5 linked regions of the Homo sapiens genome follow. The protein of the gene in region 4 purifies or fractionates together with the protein of the main gene of each other region. This does not show direct contact. Each region holds a gene or a part of one and is shown on either strand. Other genes may lie near its edges. The genes, in order: SURF4, CD244, ELMO2, DOCK1 and IPCEF1.

The links.
Region 1: the proteins of DOCK1 (region 4) and SURF4 purify together in Homo sapiens (affinity purification with mass spectrometry; one large-scale study listed by BioGRID and IntAct). This does not show direct contact.
Region 2: the proteins of DOCK1 (region 4) and CD244 purify together in Homo sapiens (co-immunoprecipitation; one large-scale study listed by IntAct). This does not show direct contact.
Region 3: the proteins of DOCK1 (region 4) and ELMO2 purify together in Homo sapiens (affinity purification with mass spectrometry, with the first as the bait; one large-scale study listed by BioGRID). This does not show direct contact.
Region 5: the proteins of DOCK1 (region 4) and IPCEF1 purify together in Homo sapiens (affinity purification with western blotting, with the first as the bait; one study listed by BioGRID). This does not show direct contact.

The regions. Positions count from the first base shown.
Region 1 is NC_000009.12:133,363,456-133,366,061, forward strand, and holds part of SURF4 (surfeit locus protein 4), read right to left. Parts: intron 2,574-2,606; coding exon 2,530-2,573; intron 1,572-2,529; coding exon 1,385-1,571; intron 305-1,384; coding exon 38-304; 3' UTR 21-37; coding exon of another isoform or gene 9-20; 3' UTR 1-8. UniProt on the Homo sapiens protein: Endoplasmic reticulum cargo receptor that mediates the export of lipoproteins by recruiting cargos into COPII vesicles to facilitate their secretion.
Region 2 is NC_000001.11:160,852,878-160,856,435, forward strand, and holds part of CD244 (natural killer cell receptor 2B4 isoform 1 precursor), read right to left. Parts: intron 1-3,558. UniProt on the Homo sapiens protein: Heterophilic receptor of the signaling lymphocytic activation molecule (SLAM) family; its ligand is CD48.
Region 3 is NC_000020.11:46,386,092-46,389,649, forward strand, and holds part of ELMO2 (engulfment and cell motility protein 2), read right to left. Parts: intron 3,130-3,558; coding exon 2,948-3,129; intron 1,700-2,947; exon of another isoform or gene 1,609-1,699; intron 1,347-1,608; coding exon 1,247-1,346; intron 185-1,246; coding exon 33-184; intron 1-32. UniProt on the Homo sapiens protein: Involved in cytoskeletal rearrangements required for phagocytosis of apoptotic cells and cell motility. Acts in association with DOCK1 and CRK. Was initially proposed to be required in complex with DOCK1 to activate Rac Rho small GTPases.
Region 4 is NC_000010.11:127,408,911-127,412,468, forward strand, and holds part of DOCK1 (dedicator of cytokinesis protein 1), read left to right. Parts: intron 1-126; coding exon 127-268; intron 269-402; coding exon 403-481; intron 482-1,344; coding exon of another isoform or gene 1,345-1,506; intron 1,507-1,929; coding exon 1,930-2,014; intron 2,015-3,558. UniProt on the Homo sapiens protein: Involved in cytoskeletal rearrangements required for phagocytosis of apoptotic cells and cell motility. Along with DOCK1, mediates CRK/CRKL regulation of epithelial and endothelial cell spreading and migration on type IV collagen.
Region 5 is NC_000006.12:154,346,747-154,350,304, forward strand, and holds part of IPCEF1 (interactor protein for cytohesin exchange factors 1), read right to left. Parts: intron 1-3,558. UniProt on the Homo sapiens protein: Enhances the promotion of guanine-nucleotide exchange by PSCD2 on ARF6 in a concentration-dependent manner.

The sequences.
Region 1 (2,606 bases), on a different chromosome or scaffold from region 4:
CACGGGTCTTAGCCAGGCAGGTAGGGATCTGTGACTGTTACCACTCCTTCTTCTTCTCATCCATGGAGACACCCCCAGGGCCCAGGGCCACCACCAGGAGCAAGCCCCCAATCACCGACATGGTCTGGAAGAAGTCGTATTTCAGGAAGTCATGCATGGGCTTGTAGACTGGAATGGTCCAGAAGGCGTTGAAATATACGTTGATGGCAAAGAGCCACACAACAAGAGTCAAAGCAGCCAGCTTGGTTTTAAAACCAATGGCCACTAAAATCATCAGAGCTGTGCCCACGATGTTCTGGACAATCTGCATAGGTTGAAACGTAAGAAATTCAAAATAAATGTGAGGAAAAGAGATGCTTTATAAACAAAAGTTCCAGCTGCTGCACGTCATGAAGTCTCTATCCATCAGGCTGATGTAGCTACTGCTGAGACGGCTGCTGGTGCAAGTAGGGAGATAAAAGCCAAAGGGAGGCAGGAGGCAATAAAGCACCAGCTTTGAAATGTGGAAGGTTTGGGGAAGACTGAAGTTCCCAACTAGTAACAGGCTGTGATTTACCAAGATGAATCTCTAATCCATAACTAAATTCCCAAGTGCTTCTTGGCCCACCCAGCCATCCAGGCCAGAAACATCCTCTCTCCTCTCTCCATGGCGCCAGGAGCTCTTCCTGGACACTACCCGGCCAGGGCTCTCAGTCAGCTCCGGAGGTGTGCTCTGGAAGCTCCTGGAGGCCTGCCCCTGACACCTGACACACAGGAATTACTTGAGAAAGATACGAACAGTGAGGAAAGAAAGAAGAGTAAGGGGAGCCCGGGTGGAGAGCCTTGGCCAACCAAGGGCCAAGCACACTCCACCAAGGTCAGAGGTTCTGGCCTTCATTTGCTGGAAAGAAGGCTTGACACACAAGAGATTGACGATGTTTTGGTCTGTTTTAATGGGATCAAAAAGTTTGCTCCGCCGAGCACGGTGGCTCACGCCTGTAATCCCAGCAATTTGGGAGGCTGAGACAGGCAGATCACGAGGGGTCAGGAGATCGAGACCATCCTGGCTAACACGGTGAAACCCTGTCTCTACTAAAAATACAAAAAATTAGCCAGGCGTGTTGGCAGGCGCCTGTAGTCCCAGCTGCTCGGGAGGCTGAGGCAGGAGAATGGCGTGAACCCGGGAGGCGGAACTTGCGGTGAGCCGAGATCACGCACTGCACTCCAGCCTGGGGGACAGAGCGAGACTCCGTCTCAAAAAAAAAAAAAAAAAAGTTTGCTCCATTTCAGCAGCTCCCCCAGGCTGTGGTTAATACCCAACCAGGGAGGGGTGAGCAGGGAGGGGGTGGGGGAGGGACAGCATTCACAGGAAACCAGACCGGTTCAGGCAAGTAGGAATACTTACAGAAAAGAAGCTGGCGTCAAAGTGAAGGAGGGTCATGAACATCAGAACCAGCAAGACCCTGCCTCCGAGCTGCATGTACTGTTTGGGGGAGCTCTCACGCATGGTGGGGACGCCCGCAAACATGCTCTTCCCTTCAGAACGGGATTCTGCTAGGAGCAGCAACAGGCCTCCTCCCAGGGCCAGGTTCCTGAGGAACAGATATGTGGGCTGGAAGCTAAGCCTCACCAGGATCTGGCCTGTCTGTGAGACCAGGTGCAGGGAGACCTTGCTGCCAGTATAAGAAGGCCCTTACTTCCCTTTCTCCAAACCCAGTGATCTGCCAAGCAGGACCAGGCAGGCATGCGCACAGGACCTCAGACTCGAGTTACACCCATGTAAAACCTTACATAGCTCAGGAGACAGAGGTATCTTTACAACTCGACAGTGACAGGCTACCTGAACACACACACAACCGAGTCCTAGTCACAGCTTCAGTGTTGACCAGCTGGGTCCCCGTGGTCAGGTCTGTCCTCCACTCAGACCCGGAGTCCCCACACCCGTGAAATAAGGGTCAGAAGAGACGGCTTCAGTCTCTACTATTCTAGGGGCTCTGCAACATCCTCTTCAGAACCTGTTTCTAAGAGGCACAATTTAGACAGGGGGGTCCAATCTTTTGGCTTCCCTGGGCTACCCTGGAAGAACTGTCTTGGCCACACATAAAATACACTAATGCTAATGATAGGTGATGAGCTAAAAAATAAAACTTAAAAATCACAAAAAAAACTCTCAATGTTTTAAGAAAGTTTTTGAGTTTGTGTTGGGCCATGTTCACCCCGTGGACCACAGGCTGGACAAGCTTGGTTTAGACCCAGAGAAGTCTACTCAAACCAATAGTTAACTGAGTTTAGAAATACAGATTGAGTATCCCTAACCTGAAATGCTTAGGACCCAAAGTGTTTCAGATTTTGGTATATTTGCATTATATACTTATTGGCTGAGCATCCCAAATCTGAAAATCCAAAACCTGAAATGCTCCAATGAGCACTTCCTTTGAGCGTCATGTTGGTGCCCAAGATTTTTCCCATTTTGGAGCATTTCAGACTTTGGATTTGCAATGCTCAACCTGTAGAAGGAGCGTATACTAAAACCAACCAGAATGCACATACCTCATCAAAAACTTCAAGTCCCATAAAATGCTGTAGGCAATCGTCTGAGGGGAAAGAAGAGAGAGATACTTGAGTCT
Region 2 (3,558 bases), on a different chromosome or scaffold from region 4:
CTGGGCGTGGCAGTGCACACCTGTAATCCCAGCTACTTGGAAGACTGAAGCAGGAGAATCACTTAAATCTGAGAGGCGGAGGTTGCAGTGAGCCAAGATCATGCCATTGCACTCCAGCCTGGGCAACAAGAGTGAAACTCCGTCTCAAAAAAAAAGAAAATCTGGTGTTTATATCCACTAAAAATATGTACAAGAGTGTTAATAATGGCTTTAGTCATAATAACTCAAAATGAGAAAAAACCCAAATGTCTATCACGATTAGATGAGCAAATAAATCGTGTTATAGTCTTATAAGGAATATTACACAGCAATGAAAAAGAAAAGCTACTTTTCCTGGCAATAATGTGGATGGATCTCACCACAATGATGAGTATTAATGAAGCTAGACTCCAAAAAGTACATAGTGAATTATTTCACTGATATAAAGTTTAAAATCTGGAAAAACTAATATATGGTGAGAGAGGTTAGAATGTGATTACCCTTGCAGGAGGGGGGTTATCAACTTGAAGGGCCAAAAAGGAATGACTGGGTGCTAGAAATGTGTTACATCTTGATGTGGGTAGTTTTGATATGTACTTACACATATAAAAGTTCATCAAGCTGTTGATTTAAATTTTGTGCACACAGCTGTGAGTTGTATCTTGGTAAAAAAGCAGAAAAAGAGTAATGACTACCTCTCACTCAACTGTTCTGACTATTAACTAAGATGTACTTTGATAAAAGCAAAATATGACTTGCCCATTGTGGAAACATTACCATAGCAAGTGAATTTGTAGATTTCCTCACTCATCTCAGCTAAACCCAACTCTTAGCTAAATATCAGAAAAGCCTGGGAGGCAGGGGTTGCAGTGAGCCATGACTGCACCACTGCACCCCAGCCTGGGTGACAGAGCAAGACCCTGCCTAAAAAAAAAAAAAAAAAAAAAAAAAAGTGAAAAAGGAAGATAGACCTAAAACAGCCAACTGAAATGCAATATGGAATGTGCTATGGAGGTGTGCCCAGGGTGTGAGGCAAGCATAAGGAAAGCATGTTTTCCTCTGCCCTGCAGAGTTAGGAGTGGCTGCCCAGAGGCGGTGGGTGGGAGCTGCCATTGAAAGAAAAAGCCAAGGCCTGCCTGGTGTATGCAGAAAGGAACAGGGAAGGTGGGTATTATGGACCCAGCAGTAGCATGGTTAAGGGAACACAAAACACACGTGTGGCTTATGGGTCTGGTAAAGATGGAGCAGGTTTGGAGAATGGGGTGATGGAACATGAGTTTAATTTTCAGGTGTTTAGTGGTGGTTTCACTTTATTTTTATCTTTTATAAAATTGTGAGAGGTAGCACAAGTATTAAAAGGTACTTAAATATAAATATACGGTGTAATGAAAAATAACGTAAACTCCCATATAATCCACCAGTAGATCAGAATGTAGAGCGCTATGTAGAAGAAGGTTGTTCTCTGCTATTATAAAACTGAATAGGAATCACACAGGAAAATGGTTAAGTTATTGTCTAGACTTCTTTGTTTGTTTGTTTGTTTTAAGACAGAGTCTCGCTCTGTCACCCAGACTGGTGTGCAGTGGCATGATCTCGGCTCACTGCAATCTCTGCCTCCCAGGTTCAAGTGATTCTCCTGTCTCAGCCTCATGAGTAACTGGGACTACAGGTGCCTGCCACCACCCCCAGCTATTCTTTTTTTTTTTTTTGTATTTTTAGTAGAGACAGGGTTTCGCCATATTGGCCAGGCTGGTCTTGAACTCCTGACCTCAAGTAATCCACCCGTCTCAGCCTCCCAAAGTTCTGGCGTGAGCCACCACTCCCAGCCATAGACTTCTAAATACTTAAAGAATGAAATGTGTGATCTACAGTCCTCATGCTATACTGCCTTTGGGGTCTTTTTAAAAATTAGGCCGTTATATTTTATTTTTATGTAATATTATATTAGTTTATACATTTAAGACTGGTTTGTCTGCAAATAAAAAGGAGCTAGAGAGAACACCAGGTGTTGTTTTGATTTTTCAACTGGAAGGAAACTGTACTAAAGGTAGGAAGCCCACAGAAAAGGAGCAGCTGAAGAAAGATGAGGGATGTCTTCACAGACAGCAGGTCCCAGGTGACTTCTGAAAGAAGCTCTGGTGCCCTGAGCACACAGGGGAGTATTGGTCAAGGACAGGGCAAGAACACTCTTGCCCTCAGCAGAGGCAAATGTGGCCATTTACAGGAGTAGATGAAGTACATTGACACTGGAGACTTGTTGGCAAGGTTGGTGGAATCCCTAACTTGTGCTTCTGTTTTCTTAAAGAAGGAGGTTGTTGGTTTGTGGAGGCTGAGATAGTGGAACAGGGCCTTGAAAGAGATGACGAAGGTGTGGAATTCTCCCACCTTTTGGGGAACAGGAGAAGCTGTGGGCCAGAAATGAGGATTCCCAGGACACTGAGAGTCCAGCTGGGGTTGGAGATTACGAATCTGTAGCTGCTCTTTGTTGCTGAATTTTCTCCTGCAGCCCCCAACAGTCCAGTGTGGGAAGGAGGAAGATGGTTGGAATGAGTTTCCATGGACGGCCTGGAAGGGGTGGGTGCCAGGGCAGGGGTGCAAAGCAGATACGGTGAAAAGGCAAGTAGACAAGTCACTATGTCCAGGGTATTGTGACTGATACAGAAAGACCTCAGTTTCTGTCCCAGAGGGGTACACACACCAGATAGGGGAGATGAAATGCTACTACGAAAACATAACTTCAACACAAGTTCTCACACATTTAGTGAGGCATAGAGGAGGACCCAACAAGTGAAAATTGTTTAGAGGAAAGAGGCCACAGTCCAGGAAGGCCCCCGGGCCCCTGCCACTGCTGTTGCTACTGCTCAGCAGCTTTGGGGGCCACCTTCCTGTGGTTAAGAACGGATGAGGTGAACTAGTAACTCTGAAAGGGAGGGCAGAGGGCAGATGATTAACTCCACTGCAGCCTCAGGAAGAACAGAGGATGGTCAAGGAGACAAGTACAGAGGATGGTGAAGGAGACAATCTGATCCAGCAGTGAGTCCCGCTCAGCCCTGAGCCCATGTGCAGAGCTCTGAGTCAGCTCAGCTTCCTCCAACCTGGACCTGCCAGTCGGAGGAAGGTGTGGGGCCTGAGCACCTGGGAGAAGGAGCACGGGAGGGTCTCAGAGCAAGTGGAATTTCCACCAGCCAACAAATAGATGTTAAGGTTTTCTCAGCTAGGGCTTGTGCTACCAGGCTTGGGGTGAAGGCATCAAAAGATGTACCTGCTGGGGACTAAGTGAACAGAGTCCAGTGAGATTCCAAAAGTACTGGGGCAATCCAGCTCTAGTCAGGGCAAAATCATAAGATAGATAAAGTATCCTATAGGGCCCACATCCCATTTCTTTCTTCCTCTCTATTTAGCTTCATACTGACCATATTAACTCTCTTCCTCAGGCAATGCAACTCCCTTACCTCTGTCAAAACTCACCTAGCCCAAGTCCCACTCTTTGCATCAGTTAACCAAATCATCTCATATGTGATATTGTTTCTCCATGATAACAAGTGCATCTCCCTTTCCTGTTTCCCATCCAAACCCCAT
Region 3 (3,558 bases), on a different chromosome or scaffold from region 4:
GAAGGGAGGGAGGTGTAGGGTTTTTTACTCACACCTGGAGGTGTGAGATGAGCTGTCCCACGGTGATTTCCTCGGCTATCTTCTGGTACAGACTCTGGCTGTTCAAGACCATGCTCTCCAGGATGGCCAGGGACCTCTGAAGGATTGACACGTCCACCATGGGCTGGCTCACATACCCTGCAATCTAGACCCAGAGATGGCACATCAATTGAGAAGCTCAGGGCCCAAGAAAGATAGAAGCTTAGCATCTGATGCTAGCCCTTGAAGCTCTCTCTGCTTCACATTTGGGCAGCTGTTGCTAGGTGGATAGTGGTATCTGGTTTACGGCTACCCTGGCCAATGTGCCAGGGATTCCCTTGGCATGGATACCTTAATCTCAGATTATAGTATCCACTTAATTGTGTTTCCTCAAAATCTAAAAGCTTAATTCTTTTTATCAAAATAAGGGTTCCAGTTTGAGAAAGTGGGGTATAAAAAAGCAGAGGATTTTACTGATACTGGGATCTCATTTTATCTCCATGTACCTCCCCTGACACACACTCCCCCTAAACACACTTAGACTTTGAGAGGTAGAAAGGACCTTGAAGCCTTTTACTCTAATCCTTCTTCTCAGTCCCCATTATAATATCCTTGACACATGGTCATTTCACTTGTGTCCAGTGTCGGGGAGTCCCAATGTCCTAAGCCAATGATAGCTGAAGTTCTAGGGCAGCAGATACAATATTATTCATTGGTTTTAGTTCAGTATTCTGAATTGACACTGCTCCTTTGTGTAAAAGAAAGGAGGGTAAAACCAGAAGTACCCTCTCCTACCCACTGAACTTAGTCTGACAATCCAAACAGGCTACCTTGCAGATTTGTAAATAGAAGGCAAATTTACAAATGAAATGCAAATTTTTTTTATATATATACAAAAAGAAGAGAGAGCTCAGGAAGTCGGTCAAAAGACTCAGGGCTAGTACTGGTTGACTGGCTGGCTTTATCCCCAGTCTCACTGACAATCTAATTCTACTTTGATCATATTTAGTTCTGACGGTCCAGTTCCATCTCAGTGCAGGCCCTGAGAATATAACAAAATGCAAATCTTTCAGAAGCCACAGAAGACTAGAGCTTGAGGATGAAAAATCTGGCCCCAGGGAATATAAAGCTGATCTCACCAGAATGGCGATATTGCCTGTATCTCCCCTTAAGCCTTGTGAACTGGCAGCTGAGGGAGGAGAGAAAGACAGAATGTTGGAGGCCTCACCTGCTTAATAAAGGTGATTGAAACCATGTCCCAGGAGACAATGCCATGGTCCATGAGCTCTAGGAAGGCAGTCAGGGTGAATGCCAGCATCTCACTGTAGCTGAGACACGTGCAACACACACACAAAATAGACAAAGATTCAGATCGGGAAACACAGGTGTGAGGGCAGCCACAAAAAAGATGAATTTTAATGTGAACACCCCATGGGAAATCAGTCGATGCAACTGTAACTGTAAGTGCCTGTGTGCACACCTAGCCAGTGTAGAGCAGATTCAGCCCAGGTATCTATCGCTGCAAAAAAAAAAAAAAAAAAAAATGTTGCTGGGTAATTAGATCTTCCTTCTCCATATGCTTCATCCCAGGGACACAGAATCACTTATCTATTTCCCAAGACCAAAGAAGACATTGGACCTTTGTCAAACTCCAACACCTGTTGGGAGAACCTAAGGAAGTGTAAGTGCCATGTTAACCTTTGGGCCAAGAGGCAGTAGAGTGCAAGAGATGGGTTCAGTTCCTGTCCACCTTACTAACCAAGCAAATTTTATCTTTTCAAAATTCAATTTCTTCCTCTGTAAAATCAAGTTAGTCTCACAGCGTTAACCTCACAGGGTTGTGGAGACGACAAGATGATGATGTATGCAAAGCTCTTATTCTAGTGCTGGTAGAGAATAAGGATTAAAATGTTTTCTCTTTTTTCTCTTCTCCTTATACATTTAATCCTTTATACATCTGTACAGTGCTCTAGAATTAACAGATGATATTCCTATTTACAAAGCATGTTCAGACACATTCTCATTAACAATACTTCTCACAATAATACTGCAAGGTAGCTATTATTATCCTCAGGCTGAAGAGAGTGAAACTAAGGCCAGTCTAACCCTGTACCCTTGGGAGACTGTAGAACTATGTCAGTGCTGATGGCAGCTGAAGGCTTCAGGACTTCAATACAGCTGGAAGATCCAATATGTAAAACAAATATCTATGATTAGTTACTCGATTTGGCTAACAATTTCAATAGTTGATCTATGGGCTGAGAAGATTTCTGACTCCCTCTTTGGCAGGTTAGGCTCCAAGCACCTGTTTACTGACTGCTGCTCACAAGGCACAGCTGCCCACCGCATGCATGTGAACTCTGGGGTATGATGAAGATGCTTGTGGGTATCACAAAGTTCTGGTCTCCTCCTCCCTGTGCAAAAGTGTGGCAGGGAGATGGTGAATGGGTAGGTTGACACCTGTGGTAAACACAAAGGAAGGCGTGTGTGTGTGTGTGTGTGTGTGTGTATGGGCTGGGAGGTGACTGAAGAGGGAGGAGCAGGGGATGATTACAAACAGACACCTGGGAGATACTGGACCATCTGCTCACTAACCCTCATCAAACCAAACATTTCCAGCAATTAACAGGTCTGTCACGACGTGACTGCTCTCCTCCTGACTTCTCTAGCCCCTATTTTCACTGCTCACTTGGCACAGTACTGTTTTGTACTGTTATTTAATTTGTGAGAGCCCAAATAGACTACACGATTTAGAATCACAATATGGAATTATATATCTTGGTATGGACTCTAGTGCTTGGCACACTGCTCTGCACACAGGTGGTATTCAATAAACTCCTTATTTGACTCAAGGGAAATGAGACTAGGATGCCCTGTGGGATGTAGTAAATCGTCGAAGTCCTTGGAACGAGACCTTAGTCATACTCACTGGGACAAGAGCTTGGTTCCACTTTCCACGAGCCTTGTCAGCACAATGATGCCATCCATGTTGATGAACTCAGTAGCGAAAGTCACGTCGGCAGAGAGCTTGGCCAGCTCCTTCATGGCATCCAGCCGGGTCTCCATGTTGGATGACTGGGTCCTCTCCATCAGCTGGCGTGCAGCCCGGGACTAGGAGGCCAGGGACAAGATATGTGCCATCTGCTCCTTGGAGCAGGTTACTACTCTGTGGATAGCTCACAGAGGCCCTTCTGTGGACATCCAAACCTGAGGCAGAACTAGTTTTTTCACACAGCTTAGGAGTTGCTAAATAAATGTTTGTGGAATCAATCAGGGAGTTATTAGTATGCCAAAACCAATCTGTAGTTATCTGCATCTTTTCTGTACCGCTTTGGCCTATGGATTTAAAAAATTCCTACCAAGGGAATACTGGAGGCATCTGGGAGGCCCACTAACGATGGTAAGTCACAGAGAAACAGATACTGGTTTAATAGAGGAAGGTTTTCTATTTAAGCTGTCTTGCTGGGTGCGTGGCTCATGCATGTAATCCCAAGGCTTTGAAAGGCCAAGGCAGGATTGCTTGAAGCCAGGAGTTAGACA
Region 4 (3,558 bases):
GTTGTTCTTAAATTTAATGACATTTTGTAAGAACCCGTAAGGCATATTTTAAGGCCAGCATATTGCATGTGAACTCTTCCTGGCCCTTTCTCTGTGGTGTTATGAAATGAATGTCACCCTTTTCAGGGAAAAGTTTTCATTTACCGAGGGAAAGAGTATGAGCGCCGGGAAGATTTTGAGGCTCGGCTCTTAACTCAGTTTCCAAACGCCGAGAAAATGAAGACAACATCTCCACCAGGCGACGATATTAAAAACTCTCCTGGCCAGTGTATCCTTTAAGACAACCTCATCAACTCTGAAACCATGGTGATGCCATTCATTTGGGTGGTTGGGTGTGGTGGGGGGCCTCTCTCATGGTTGATGTCTATGCTGCCTTAGTGATCCTTAACCCCCTCACCTCAGATATTCAGTGCTTCACAGTGAAGCCCAAACTCGATCTGCCTCCTAAGTTTCACAGGCCAGTGTCAGAGCAGATTGTAAGGTAATAATCCCATTTTTCTTACCCAACGTGAGGGTTGTAAGAGGCTGTGTACAGATCTCTTGCTAATAATTCCACCTTTTAAAGGACGGACTTTGGCCATGGATTCGCTTTCCAAATGCTCTTTCTGTCCTCTTTGAAGAGCAAGGGAAGCTAATTATTTTCAGCATCCAAAAAAAGTGACAGGAGATGTTAATCCATGTGCTGGGAGCGTGCAAAGCCTATTCCTTTCCCAAAGTCAGCTGACAGCAAAAACCTAAGAGGGCAGTGGAGGCCGTCTGGTCTCCTTTATAGACCTGCCCTGTGGGGTACAATCCCCTAGGGAACTTCACAGCAGTGCACAAGTCCTGCCTGTTCCCAGCAAAGCCAAGTTCATACATGTGAGTGTGGCCTGAATGTTTGCATTTTAGAAGGCGGGAAATGGGATTTGCACATTTGCTCCTGGTGACACACAGGAGAACCCTTCAGCCTTACAGCACAGCAATTCCATAATGTAGGGTTATGAGGGGGCTTTTAAACCTCCTGAGTCAACTGTCCATATTTGAGTGAGATTTTCTGCCTGTCAGTTGTATCGCACCTGACTTAGCAATGGCATAGAAAGACCTGCTTTAGCAGATGTGTTTGATATTAAGACTTTTCTGTTCTGTTTGATCCATGTTCTGGTGAAAATATTAATCTCTTTGATGACCTCATATTCCTTAGGATCAGCTTCATTTTGCTTCCTGAAGTTTGGTGGTTTCTTTAACCTTTCATCGTTTCTTTGACCTTGCATCAGCAATAATGGGAAATAAACTGGGACCCTGTTTATTTACAAATGATTGCTCTCGCAAGGCATACATTTTAAGGGTTGCAACATTTTTTTTCAGAGGCCTTAAGCAAATAGTGACGCTTAGAGCCTTCTCAGATGCAGTAGTTTCTTTTGCTGTGGAAGCCTGCCTGCATTTCAGTGCAGGGGAGAAATCAGTCTCAGTCTCTCCACGCCCTGCCCTGTGCATGCGGAAAGCCTGCCTCGTACCCCGACCGCGGAGGCAGGTTACTTATGTTTCCTGTGTGTCACTCTTGGGGTGGTTGCAAAATCTGTGCTTTGTAGATCTGAAACTAAGGTATGTAATACTTTTTTAAAATAATAATAAACACATACGTTGAACACAAAAGCTTTTTTCTCTCTCCTTCGCTTCACCTTTCCTCTGTTTTTGCTCATTTCACTCTTACTCAGCTTCTGTTTTCCCTCGAGGGTTGGCAGGGACAGGGAAGAGGCAAAAACTCAAGTTAATTTTTCCACCTGCCAACATTTCCCTGGCTGGGAGAGGACACCAAGGCGATGGCTTCAGGTCAAGGTTAGGGACATTTTACAGGAGGCAGTGACATGTTCTAAGGCCAGACCCCGTGTCCAAAAGCAAATTGGCTATTTGCCGGGTTAAATATCTAATGATCTGTCTGTCTCTGTACAGTTTTTACAGGGTGAACGAGGTCCAGCGATTTGAATATTCTCGGCCAATCCGGAAGGGAGAGAAAAACCCAGACAATGAATTTGCGGTAAAAAACAAACAAACCACCAAACCAAACAACAAAAAATATCATTCCGCCACCAGTAGAACTGCCACTGGAGAAGCGTGGCCTCAGAGGCAGCCACGGAGCCATATTAAATGTCTTTGTGTATTATGTGCAGAAATCTTAATCTATTACCCCCTCCAAAGTTAGAAAAACTAATTGCCATTTCACTAACAATATGACTAAGGTCACTGAGATATTTAATAAGGAGACTGTGCCGTCCAAATGCCGGAGCTCCCATATGAGTAGCGCACTGCCTTCCCTGCGAGCCCCAGGTGAGAGAGCAGGTGCCTGTCATCTCTAGTTAAAAATGGACCCACCGAGTGCTGAGGTGCGGGGTGCTGACGTGGCTTTCTGCAGGTGACACAGCAGTCAGCACATGAACTGGATCTGGACCCGGGTGCTCATTCCTCATTCAGTATCCAGCACCTGAACTTCAGTGGAGCACAACACACAACTGCAGGGTTGACCCCAGCACTACTAGCAATACGGACCGGGTTATTCTCTGTGGTGGGGACCATCCAGTGCATCCAGGGATGTTTGGCAGCATCCCTGAACACTGCCTACTAGGTGCCAGTGCCACCACCCCAGTTGGGACAACCAATCAAAAAGATTTCCAGGCCAGGCATGGTGGCTCACACCTGTAATCCCAACACTTTGGGAGGCTGAGGCAGGTAGATCAAATTAGTTCAGGAGTTCGAGACCAGCCTGACCAACATGGTAAAACACTGTCTCTACTAAAAGTACAACATTAGCCGGGCGTGGTGGTGCACGCCTGTAATCCCAGCTATTTGGGAGGCTGAGGCGGGAGAATCGCTTGAACCCAGGAGGCAGAGGTTGCAGTGAGCCAAGATCGCTCCATTGCACTCCAGCCTGGGGAACGAGAGTGAAACTCCATCAAAAAAATAAAGTTTCCAGACATTGCAAAATAAAACATCTGCCCCTTGTTGCAAACCACGGCATTCGAGTTGTAGAAATAACAGCAAACATCTTTAGAGCCTTTTTTCTTTATTTTTTTATTTTTATTTGTTTATTTTTTTTGAGACAGAGCCTCGCTCTGTCGCCCAAGCTGGAATGCAGTGCCATGATCTCAGCTCACTGCAAGCTCCGCCTCCCAGGTTCACGCCATTCTCCTGCCTCACCCTCCCAAGTAGCTGGGACTACAGGTGCCCGCCACTACGCCCGGCTAATTTTTTGTATTTTTAGTAGAGACGGGGTTTCACGGTGTTAGCCAGAATGGTCTCGATCTCCTGACCTCGTGATCCCCCCGCCTCAGCCTCCCAAAGTGCTGGGATTACAGGCGTGAGCCACCGCGCCTGGCCCTAGAGCCTTTTAAAAATTCTACATACAAACTGCTTTCATGGATTCATTTGTATTTTTATTTTATTTATTTTTTTATATAGAGGTGGGGTCTATGTTGCTCAGGCTGGTCTTGAACTCCTGGGCTCAAGTGAGTGGATCCATGTTGAAAAGGCATCAAATAAGCCATAATTTTTTTAAAATGTTAATGTTTATCCGTCTTGCCTGGG
Region 5 (3,558 bases), on a different chromosome or scaffold from region 4:
CTTGTGAGAACTCACTCACTATCATGAGAACAACATGAGGAACAGCCCCCATGGTCTAATCACCTCCCACAAGTTTCCTCCCCCAACACGTGGGGATTACAATTTGGATTACAGTTCAACGTAAGATTTGGGTGGCCAGACTCTATCCCTATCCAAGCATATCCTCTCAAAACTCTGCCTTCCTATTTTTTAATCTCTGTTTTCTTCCCCTTTTCAATCTATATTATTAGAAACAAATGCTCCATCACCCTCAACCCCAATTCTCCTCAGCTTTGATCTGGAAGTGTCTTTGGGAATGAGATTTTCCTCAAGGCTCAGGCAAATCTGGGCTGAGCACTCCTAAAATCATTATTCACCCAAACAGGCTTCCTCTGGCCTCTCTGGGGTTGGATTATACACATTCTCAGCTCCAGGAATGGAAAGGTGGACAAGCACAAAGCAACCTTATCCAAAAATAAGAAATTATGTAGCATCCTTTTCCTTATATTATAGTATATTCCCTCAGGACAGCTATATACTGGACGCTCAGGTCAAATAAGCCTAGGCTCAAATTCTGACCCCAGAGTCAAACTGCTGGGGTTGGAACCCTGACTGTACTATTTCTGGGTGACCTTGAGCCAGGTTTGAAGTTCCCTGAACCTGTGTTTTCTCATCAGAGAAAGGGAACTAGTTAATAATAACAGCACTTCCTAGAGCTATTTGATTAAAAAATTAGATAATGAATGTAAAGCCTTTAACACCGTCCCTTGCAGACAGCAAGAGGACAGTACATGTTACCTCCATGTGCCACACAGCCAGTGGGGCTGGGGAAGCCCTGCATGGCCTGTTGGAAAAGCTGCAATTATCAGGTTGGTGCAAAAGTAGTTGCAGGTTTTGCCATTAAAGACTACTTTTTCACCAGCCTATAGAAAGAAGGGGTCCTCTTGGACTCTATTTTCTGCCTTGCTCTAAGGCTCACCTCAGTGGCTCCTACTGCCCAGAAAGTTCCAGGCATTGCCTAGAATATTTCATAGGCCAGGAGCATCCATCCATTGGCAAAAGGCCACCTCCACAATGATAGGAAACGTGAGCTCGTGGGGAGTGGACAGTGGTTTGGTGCTCAATGCCTGAAGTCCATTGAGATTGACAGAGGGATCGCTTGCTAACTTGCTCCCAATGCACAGAACACAAAGAGGATGCAATGCCCGGTGGAAATTACTACACCCCATGTCTAGGACCCTGTGACTACAGCTAATGCCAACTTGAAAGCAAAGTCACTTCAAGGCAATCAGGAGTCGCTGAGCCTTCATTGCTCAGCCCACTTACTGTGTTTTGGTGACTCGGTGTCTCTCTCCCCGTGCTGGCTTCTCAGCTCAGAATATCTGGGACTCCAGCGTTCCTCTCAAGGCAACTAATTTGTACATAACTTTGGAATGTTTGTGAGTGTTCACAAAATAAAACTGAATAGTACTCGAGTGCCTGGCTCAAACCTTGCTCCACAGTCCCTCCCTCAAGTCCCCATTACCTACGCAAAAGCTGCTCTAGTTGATTAATCAAGTTGAAAATCCAAGTGTGGAAAACTCTGGTAGCTGTGTTCCAGAGTAAAATCCAGCTCTAGCTGGAAAACTGTGAGTGTATTTGACCAAGAGAGTTCAAGTTCAGGCACTTCTCTTTGATAGACTGGCTATAACTGAGTCTAACCAAGAGGCAATACTAATTCACACGATTCCAGGGGAATTTCAAAGGTGATCTTGTCCATTTAATTGCAGTGAAATACCTGGCACATTACGTGGAAAATATTAGGTACTCAATAAGTATTTGGTGAAGGTTGAATATTCGTAAGTGGGTCCTTATCATATTATATGGTCAGCATTCACAACCACTAGTAAGAACAACTGCTTGACTATTTTTTGTCAGGATGGAAAAAGAGGTTGGGATTTGTGCCTTAACAAGGAACCAGAAAATAAGGTCTTTAATATCATTTGCTTCAGGCTTTTAATCGGTGGAAAGAACAAAGTTGTTACAAATGACTTGCACTCCCAGCGAATAAACAGCAACGTTCCTGCAACAACCATTTAATCTATTAGAATAGTAGAATCTTCAAACATGTTCAAGAAATGGATGAGATTATATATATTCTCATCAGTCCATAAAACTATTACAGATTTATCCAATAGTGTGCTGTAGTCTGAGCTATTCAAACAGAATAATCATAAACAAGTAGCCTAAAATGCATGGTTTTCATGTTTACAGCCGTTTGCTTAGTTTTTCAAATAATTAAAGGTTTTCTCCTTCAAACATAACTTTGTATAAAGTACAGCTTATCTCTGGATAAACTGTGACACTTTACAAAGAATTATATTCTTTAGGAGTGAATAATGTTAAATTAAGGTTCCTGGGAAATGTTTTGAGTTGGTTTCATCTTTTTTCCTTTCTCAGAGGTTTGTATTATTTTATCTTATTATTATTATTATTATTATTATTGAGACAGGGTCACTCTCAGTCACCCTGGAATGAATGCAGTGGTGCGATCATTGCCTACTGCAACCTCAATCTCCCAGGCTCAAGTGATCCTCCTGCCTCCATCTCCTGAGTAGCTGAGACTACAGGCATGCTCTACCACACTTAACTAATTTTATTTTATTTTATTTTATTTTATTTTATTTATTTATTTATTTTAGTACAGACGAGGTCTTGCTATACGTTGCTTGGGCTGTTCTCAAACTCCTGAGCTCAAGTGATCTTTCCACCTCAGCCTCCCAAAGTGCTGGGTCAAATTCCTGATTTCAAGTGATCCTCACACCTCAGACTCCCAAAGTGCTGGGATTATAGGCATGAGCCACTGTGCCTGGCCTATTTTCCTGTTTTAGACTAAGGTTCAGTCTCTATTAATATATGTACATTTGCCTATAAGTAGTTAAATGTTCTATTCCTCTCTGGCGTTACAGATCAGTGCATAAAACTCTGAAGAATGCAGTTTCCTTCACAATAGTCAGGAAAAAAAGAACTTCTACCCTGTCCAAATTTGAAAAAATCTATCCAGTCACAGATTTCTACTGCATAGTTAGAAAAAGATTATATAAAATTAACAAGTCTAAAGAAAATTAAATATGGATCAATTAAGAGGAGGAGAAAAAAGATATTTTTAGTTTTACATAGATTAAATGTATTAGCTTCCTATAATGATATTTACCTGTTAAAAGAATGTTGTTCTGCTGGGGATAATCATGTAATAGGAATTAGGGTAATTCAAATTCTGCTGAAAAGGGGATTTAAGAGATTCTTATGTCACAGGGAAACTCAAGAATATGCTTGAAATCCTGGCTATTTATGCTGTCATTAAAGTACTTATGCAGGTACCAGCCTAAATTTATGGATCAAAGTGATCAACGATTACAGATGAACCACTAAAATGATCTAACATCCATTTATTGAGAAGTTTCCACTTGCTGTACACTTAAATTGCAGCCTTAGATTTTATATTTGGATCAAAGTTCCATCACATTGCATCATTTTCAGAATATTTGAACTTTTATTTCAATACAAACTGAGGTAAATAAATATCCCCCCCAAATAGAC